Homo sapiens: one gene and its partner. The protein of the gene in region 1 interacts with the protein of each later gene in a pairwise test. Each region holds a gene or a part of one and is shown in the gene's direction. Other genes may lie near its edges.

What was found.
Region 2: the proteins of KHDRBS3 (region 1) and FXR1 interact in a two-hybrid assay, tested with the Homo sapiens proteins (one large-scale study listed by BioGRID and IntAct).

What each region holds. Positions count from the first base shown.
Region 1 is NC_000008.11:135,460,456-135,463,955, forward strand, and holds part of KHDRBS3 (KH domain-containing, RNA-binding, signal transduction-associated protein 3), read left to right. Parts: intron 1-3,177; exon of another isoform or gene 3,178-3,433; coding exon of another isoform or gene 3,434-3,500. UniProt on the Homo sapiens protein: RNA-binding protein that plays a role in the regulation of alternative splicing and influences mRNA splice site selection and exon inclusion. Binds preferentially to the 5'-[AU]UAAA-3' motif in vitro.
Region 2 is NC_000003.12:180,919,170-180,922,669, forward strand, and holds part of FXR1 (RNA-binding protein FXR1), read left to right. Parts: intron 1-3,500. UniProt on the Homo sapiens protein: mRNA-binding protein that acts as a regulator of mRNAs translation and/or stability, and which is required for various processes, such as neurogenesis, muscle development and spermatogenesis.

The sequences.
Region 1 (3,500 bases):
CTATCTAAGCTTTTGGGCAACTGAGATTTAATTTGAAATCTCAGGTCTTCTGTCTCTGAAGAGGTTGTTCTTTCTTATTTTGGCTTCCTAAAATGTTGGAATGAAATACTTCTCACTTGCTAACTTCAGACCCTGCAGAAATCAATATAATTAGTATGATTGTTTCCAACTGACTTAAATGTGTAGGAAATAGTATATATCCTTTAGGAAGTTTATCCTGATTTTTACAGAAAGTTTCTGTCTGCACTTGCCTTCTTTGAAGAAGCAAACATTCACGGTAGATTTATCTTCCAGGATTTTGATGCTGAGGCCAAGAGGCAGTTTTGAATTAAAGCCCTCCTGTGACTAGTGTATTAGTTTAATAATCAATGCATTATGATAATGAAGCAGTTTATAGATGAGGTGTAGTCGTTCTTTAAAAATTCAGTGTTCGTAAAGATTGATCAACTTCCTAACTGAATTACTCTTTTTCTTTCTTGAGCTAGGATGACAATAAGAGATATACTCCTGTCTGGTATACATTGGCTTTTATATTTTTCCAGACTTGTGTTTCATCGTGGGCACTGATTGCTGATTTTATTTTCATTTTACCAGAATAACTGGTTCTCCTCCTCCACCTCCTAAATGAATTTGTTTCCCGAATATTTATTTATTTATTTTTTTGAGACGAAGTTGCCCAGGCTCTGTTGCCCAGGCTAGAGTGCAGTGACACAATCTAGGCTCACCGTAACCTCTGCCTTCTGGGTTTGCGCGATTCTCCCGCCTCAGCCTCCCGAGTAGCTGGGACTGCAGGTGTGCGCCACCATGCCTGGTTAATTTTTGTATTTTTAGTAGAGACGGGGTTTCACTGTGTTGGCCAGGCTGGTCTCGAACTCCTGACCTCGTGATCTGCCTGCCTCAGCCTCCCAAAGTGCTGGGATTACAGGTGTGAGCCACCGTGCCTGGCCTCTGAATTTGTTTCTCTAACAAAATTAGTGGTTAATGTTTATTTGATGTTAAAAGTCAGTCAAAGAAAATAGGCTTTGGGATCCCACTCCGGACCCCGCCTTGGTGCCTGTAGGGTGAATTGACATTGCAATTCTTGCCAAGGAGAGGTTAATTGCAGATGAAAGTGGTGTTGCATGTTTTATATTTGCTAGTAGGGGATGTGCTGACTCTTACTAAAAAACATCTTTAGAAATGTCTTATGCATTATAATTTAATCCAAGTCTCTGATATTGGTTTGGATGGTTTTCAATACAAGCCAAGTAACCATTAAATAAGATTACATAACACTGTATTTTTAATTATCTGATATAATGTATGGATTGGTGGCTGGCTCACTGCCAAGTTACATTTAGTTGTCGTTGATTACAAGAGAAAGTGGAGCTGAGGATTCAAGATTAAGGTGGTCCAGATTTGTGTCTAGGTTGATAAAAGTTTTTTGTTTGTATATCAAAATGGTTTTTATATCAGTTTCTCAAATATTACAATTCTTAGCATTACTTAGAATAAATATGGAGGATAAAAATATATTAAGGAAGGATTATTATTTTATGTACATCTCTTTGTAATCCACAAAACCCAGGGGCTTAAAACTTGATTTTTGGGGACCCCTTTTGGAAAACATTTCGGATTTGCTTGAATGTCACAGACTTGTAAAGTAGAGAGTAAGAATGAGAACTGCAGAACTGTATTTAGGTATGGTGCCTTCATGCTATAGTTTGTGATTTTCTGTTTCATCCAAAGGAGGATGTGATTATTTAGTTTTTAGTTTTTTATTGTTTTTCTTTGTGTTATCAGTTTTTTTTTTTTTTTAAGAAAATGCGATCACTCACAGTGTTAGATATGCCATTTCTGAGTTTTATACAGTGTATTATGATTAAAAGTGACCCAGTGATTGTGAGTTACAGGGTTTTGGTATTGGACATTAGTAACAGGCTTATAGAGAACCTGCCATGCTGGTTCTCTGTGTTGGGTCCCAGGGGTAGGGAGGAAAAACAGTCTGCACTGGTGAGAAGCTCCTGCTCTCCTCTGTGTGCGTTTGAGAATGAATTTTCGGTTTGTAGATGCCCTCTTTCCTAAGGAACATCTTAGTCCTTCAACTATGCTGAAATATTTAATGATTGGATGGCTTAGATTTACTGTTAATAAATCAGCTTGTGGACATTTTTGAGGCACTTGTTGGTACTGGGTCATGTTTGTAATCTCGATACTGGTAACAGCTCAGAGATGGAGAGGTTATTAGCCTAGTTTTTCAGTTGTAGAAACCAAGATTCTGACAGCTAAAGTGACTTGCCCATGGTGACATGCTTATAATAAAATGTCAGAGTGAAGGGTCAAGCTTTGTTCTTTTACAGGTCCATTGTTCTTTTTACCATGTCCTACTGACTCTCAGTAACACTGAGAGTCTAAAGGGCTAAGTTACTGGCCAACCTGTGATGGTATAATTAGTGAATGATAGAAGGAGAATCAAAACCCTGGCTTTTTTATGTGCAGTTTGTTTTTCCTCTAGCCTGTGCTGAATTGAAAGATAAATTATATAGCATCCATTTTCATACTTCATTCTTCACATTTCTGCCCTAAGATAAGTCCTCTGACCTTTTTCAAAATGGGTTGGATTGCCTGTTTTCTGGTGTCACATAACACCTGGTGCTCTTACGGTGTGATCCTCATCACACTGCTTTGTTTGGATCTTTGTCTTTCTTGGTAAAGAGTGAGTTCCTCGGAAGACAGGGCCTGGTCTTTCCTCTGTATCTTCAGCACCTAGCATACGTCTGAGCACAGGGCCCTTGGGAACTCCTGTCTTCATTTCAGTGTTACGTGTTAATTATCATTAAGGGTAGCAGAATCAGAAAGTATATTTGGAATTTAGCAGTCAGTAAAGAGCTTTGCTTCTTACAGCTTTAGAGGACCTGAATTGGAGGTGGGGATGAAGTCAACAGTTCTGCCCATATCAATGAAAGAAGGTTCTGAGTGAAATGCAGGGTTGAACAAGCAGAAAAGCATCCCAGTGCTCTTTAAATGTGGTTGCACAGTAGGGATCCTTCTCTAGGAGATAATGAGAAGATGTTGTCAGATCTGCTTTGAATCAGATGTTTATTTACTTTTATTCTTTCTTAAGGAATTTATGAAATCACTGCACTCTCATCAATTTGCTCTCCTTCTCTAAACTCCTAATGATATTTCTCATGACAGATTAAAAACAGAATTTTGGAAGCCCTAGTCACATGCCAAATAAGGTTTCTTACCTGAGAGAGTTATCCGCAGTTTCAGATGCCAAAGGGAAACTCCGAAAGCCAGAGGAGCGATTGAAACCGCAAATTGAGTGCCAACAGCAACTTTGATATCAAAAGCCCCATTTGCCTGTTGTCACCAGTCCCGCTGAGTGAAGATAGAATGACTTATATCTTCTACCAAAACAATAGAAGGAGAGTGTTCCTTGGCGTTGGGGATGATGATTATAAAAGCCACCAATTTGAGGCTCTTCCGTGCCAGCTGCTTTCTGTGCATTCTCTCCC
Region 2 (3,500 bases), on another chromosome or scaffold:
CTGAAATGTACTAGTCTGAATTGAGACATGCTTTAAATGTAAAATACAAATTGGGTTTCAAAGCCTTAGAATTAAAAAAAAATGTGAAACACCTAAATTTTATTTTTTTTTTATTTTTGTTTTTTTTTTTTTTGAGCCAGAGTCTTGCTCTGTTGCCCAGGCTGGAGTGCAGTGGCACTATCTCGGGTCATTGCAACTTCCGCCTCCTGGGTTCACGTGATTCTCATGCCTGAGCCACCCGAGTAGCTGGGATTATAGCTGTGTGCCTCCACGCCCAGGCAATTTTTGTATTTTTAGTAGAGACAGGGTTTCACCATGTTGGCCGGCTGGTTTCGAACTCCTAACCTCAAATGTTCCACCTGGCTCAGCCTCCCAAAGTGCTGGGATTACAGGCGTGAGCCACTGCGCCGGGCCAATAATTTTTTACATTGATTACATGTTGGATAATATTTTAGGTATATTAGGTTAAATAATATTGAAATTAATATTATCTATTTCTTTTCATGCATTTTGTTTTATTTTGAGATGGAGTCTTGCTCTGTTGCCCAGACTGGAGTGCAGTGGCGCAATCTCAGCTCACTGCAACCTCTGCCTCCCGGGTTCAAGCAATTCTCCCGTCTCAGCCTCCTGAATAGCTGGGACTAAAGGTGCCAGCCACCACGCCCGGCTGATTTTTGTATTAGAGATGGGGTTTCACCATATTGGCCAGGCTGGTCCCAAACTGCTGACCTTATGATCTTCCTGCCTCAGCCTCCCAAAGTGCTGGGATTACAGGCATGAGCCACTACCTCCTTCTTTTAATCAAGATAATTTATGCTATCAGTGTATTTAACTTGCCTGCCATTCTCTATCTTCAGCGTTTTTTGCTGTCTATTTTGGGAAGATGAACAGAGGTCTCCATTAGTAAAATAGCTGATGAAGTTTATTATTGTTGGCAAAGGGATGCGCTCCCGTGTTGAGATTTCTTCAGATCAGGAGCCTCAGAGGCTCCTGAATTCCTTTCTTAATCTACATAATTAATCATAGGTAGCTGTTTTTGGTTCCCTTTTCATGTAACCTTTTTGTTTTTACAGTTTTTCAGGTTATTTTCAAGTCTTAAATTTTGTTGATATATGTACTTAGTTCATAGTAAGCCCTCAGTGTATATTTGTTGAATGATGTGTAATCTTAGTAACTGCTAACTTCATCATTTCTGATTTTGGTTCAAACTGAATTTAAATGATTTTTTTAAAGAAGTTATGTTTTGATCTTGGTCAAGTTCAGATATTGTCACAAAACTTTATGCATGCATAGAGGGAACTGTATAGAACTTAAACTCTGCAACGAGAAAGTCAGAATAGTTTTGTTCTTTTTTTTTTTTTTTTTTGAGTCTAGCTCTGTTGCCCAGGTTGGAGTGCAGTGGCACAATCTTGGCTCACTGCAACCTCTGCCTCTTAGGTTCAGGCGATTCTTGTGCCTCAGTAATTATTGTAGCTGAGATTACAGCCATGCACCACCACGCCCGGCTAATTTTGTATTTTTAGTAGAGATGGCGATTTGCCGTGTTGACTAGGCTGACCTTGAGCTCCTGATCTCAGGTGATCTGCCTGCCTCAGCCTCCCAAAGTGCTAGGATTACAGGTGTGAGCCACCATGCCCGGCCCAGAATAGTTTTGGGTGGCCATTTGGAACTGTTAACTTATTCCATTTCAAAGAGAACTGTTAGATAATACATACAAATGGGTGAACCTAACAAGCCAAGAACATTACTGGTATGTAAACAGTAGTAGTAGACACTTGTGTATTCTTAAAGAAATCTTCACATCCTCATTGTCCTTTTTCTTTTTTCAAACTCAGAACAGTTACATGCTCAATACTAATGAATGCTGAATGCTTGCCTTGAATAATTTTTTTTTCTTATTAGAGCTTACTCCATAATTGGCTGGGCGTGCTGGCTCTTGACTGTAATCCCAGCACTTTGGGAGGCTGAGGCGGGTGGATCACTTGAGGGCAGGAGTTCGAGACCAGCCCGGCCAACATGGTGAAACCATCTCCACTAAAAACACAAAAATTAGCAGGGCATGGTGGCTGGTGCCTGTAATCCCAGCTATTCTGGAGGCTGAGGCAGGAGAATCCCTTGAACCCAGGGTGGGGGTGTGTGTGGAGGTTGCAGTGAGCCAAGATCACGCCACTGCACTCCAGCCTGGGCAACAGAAACTCCATCTAAAAAAAAAAAAAAAAACTTGTAATAATTATTGTAATGTATAATGTAATTGGTAAATTTGCAGACTTTTTGAATTTGTGGAACAAGTATCTAGTGATTTGGAATAATTTTACTTTGTAGATTTAGTTGCGTAGATCTTTTTAAAAAGTATATTGTTTGAAGTTAAGACATTTTTTTGATTGCAGTAGCAGCCTTGACTATTTGGTACTTGTTGGAATCAAATTACAACTTAGATCTTTTAGTTGTGGTAAGCATCTTATAAGTTTATATCTTATAAATTTGAGATCCCTAGAGATGGAAAAATTAGAAGTGGGGAGTGGTGATGCACATACGTGCTGTATGGAAAACGTGTTGGCTGACAATAAGATATATTCTAATTCTTAAAAGTATACGTTTACATAGACACGTGTATAATTTTACACACACGTAAGTATGATATAAAAACTTAGTCTGTTGTATTTTTTTTTCCCCTGGTTGCTCTTCACCACCTGGGTCTCTCACCTCCGCCTCCATATTAGGTAACCTTTGTTTGTAGCACATATACGTGGTTCCATATATTTCACTATGCTCGTAGAATTGTATATAGGTACGCATTCAGTTACAAGTATAGGGTTTTTCAGTATTACTGTATAAAAATAGGATCATCCACATCTTAACTATTTTCATGTGGAGTATGATTTATTTTTTAAGGTTATATAATCATAACAATGTATTAAATTCAGCCATTCCCCAGTTAATAGACATACACTTTGTTTTCAGTTTTTTGTCGCTCCACATAACTATTTCCATTGGATAGATATCAAAGAATGGGATAGCTTGGTGAAAGGGAACCTTTAAAAAAACAAAAAACTGTAATAAATGTTGAAAGATTGCTTTCCAAAAAGGCTTCTGATGCTTCCTGTGTTCTCCATCAATAATAAATGGCAGCTTTTTCTTTTTATCTGGGCCAGAAGTTGGCTTTATGATCTTTAATTTTTGCCAGTCTGTTGGATGTAAAGGGATATCTCATTGGAACTTGATCCCAGTTGTGAATTTTAATGTTGTTTGCCATTTGAACTTGTTCTTTTAAGACTTGCCTTTGTTTGCCATTTGATTTTGTTTTTCTAAGAATTGCCTGTCTTTTGCCCATTTTTTTGTTGGGGTGTCCTTTGTCAGTTTTGAAAATCTTTCTGTATTATGGATATTAAGCCTCTGACCTGATGTAAGAGTGTCCACTCTCCCACCTATTTATTTAGGTTATTAATTTTGAGATAGGATCTCAAAATAAATAATACTGTGTCACCCAGGTTGCAGTGCAG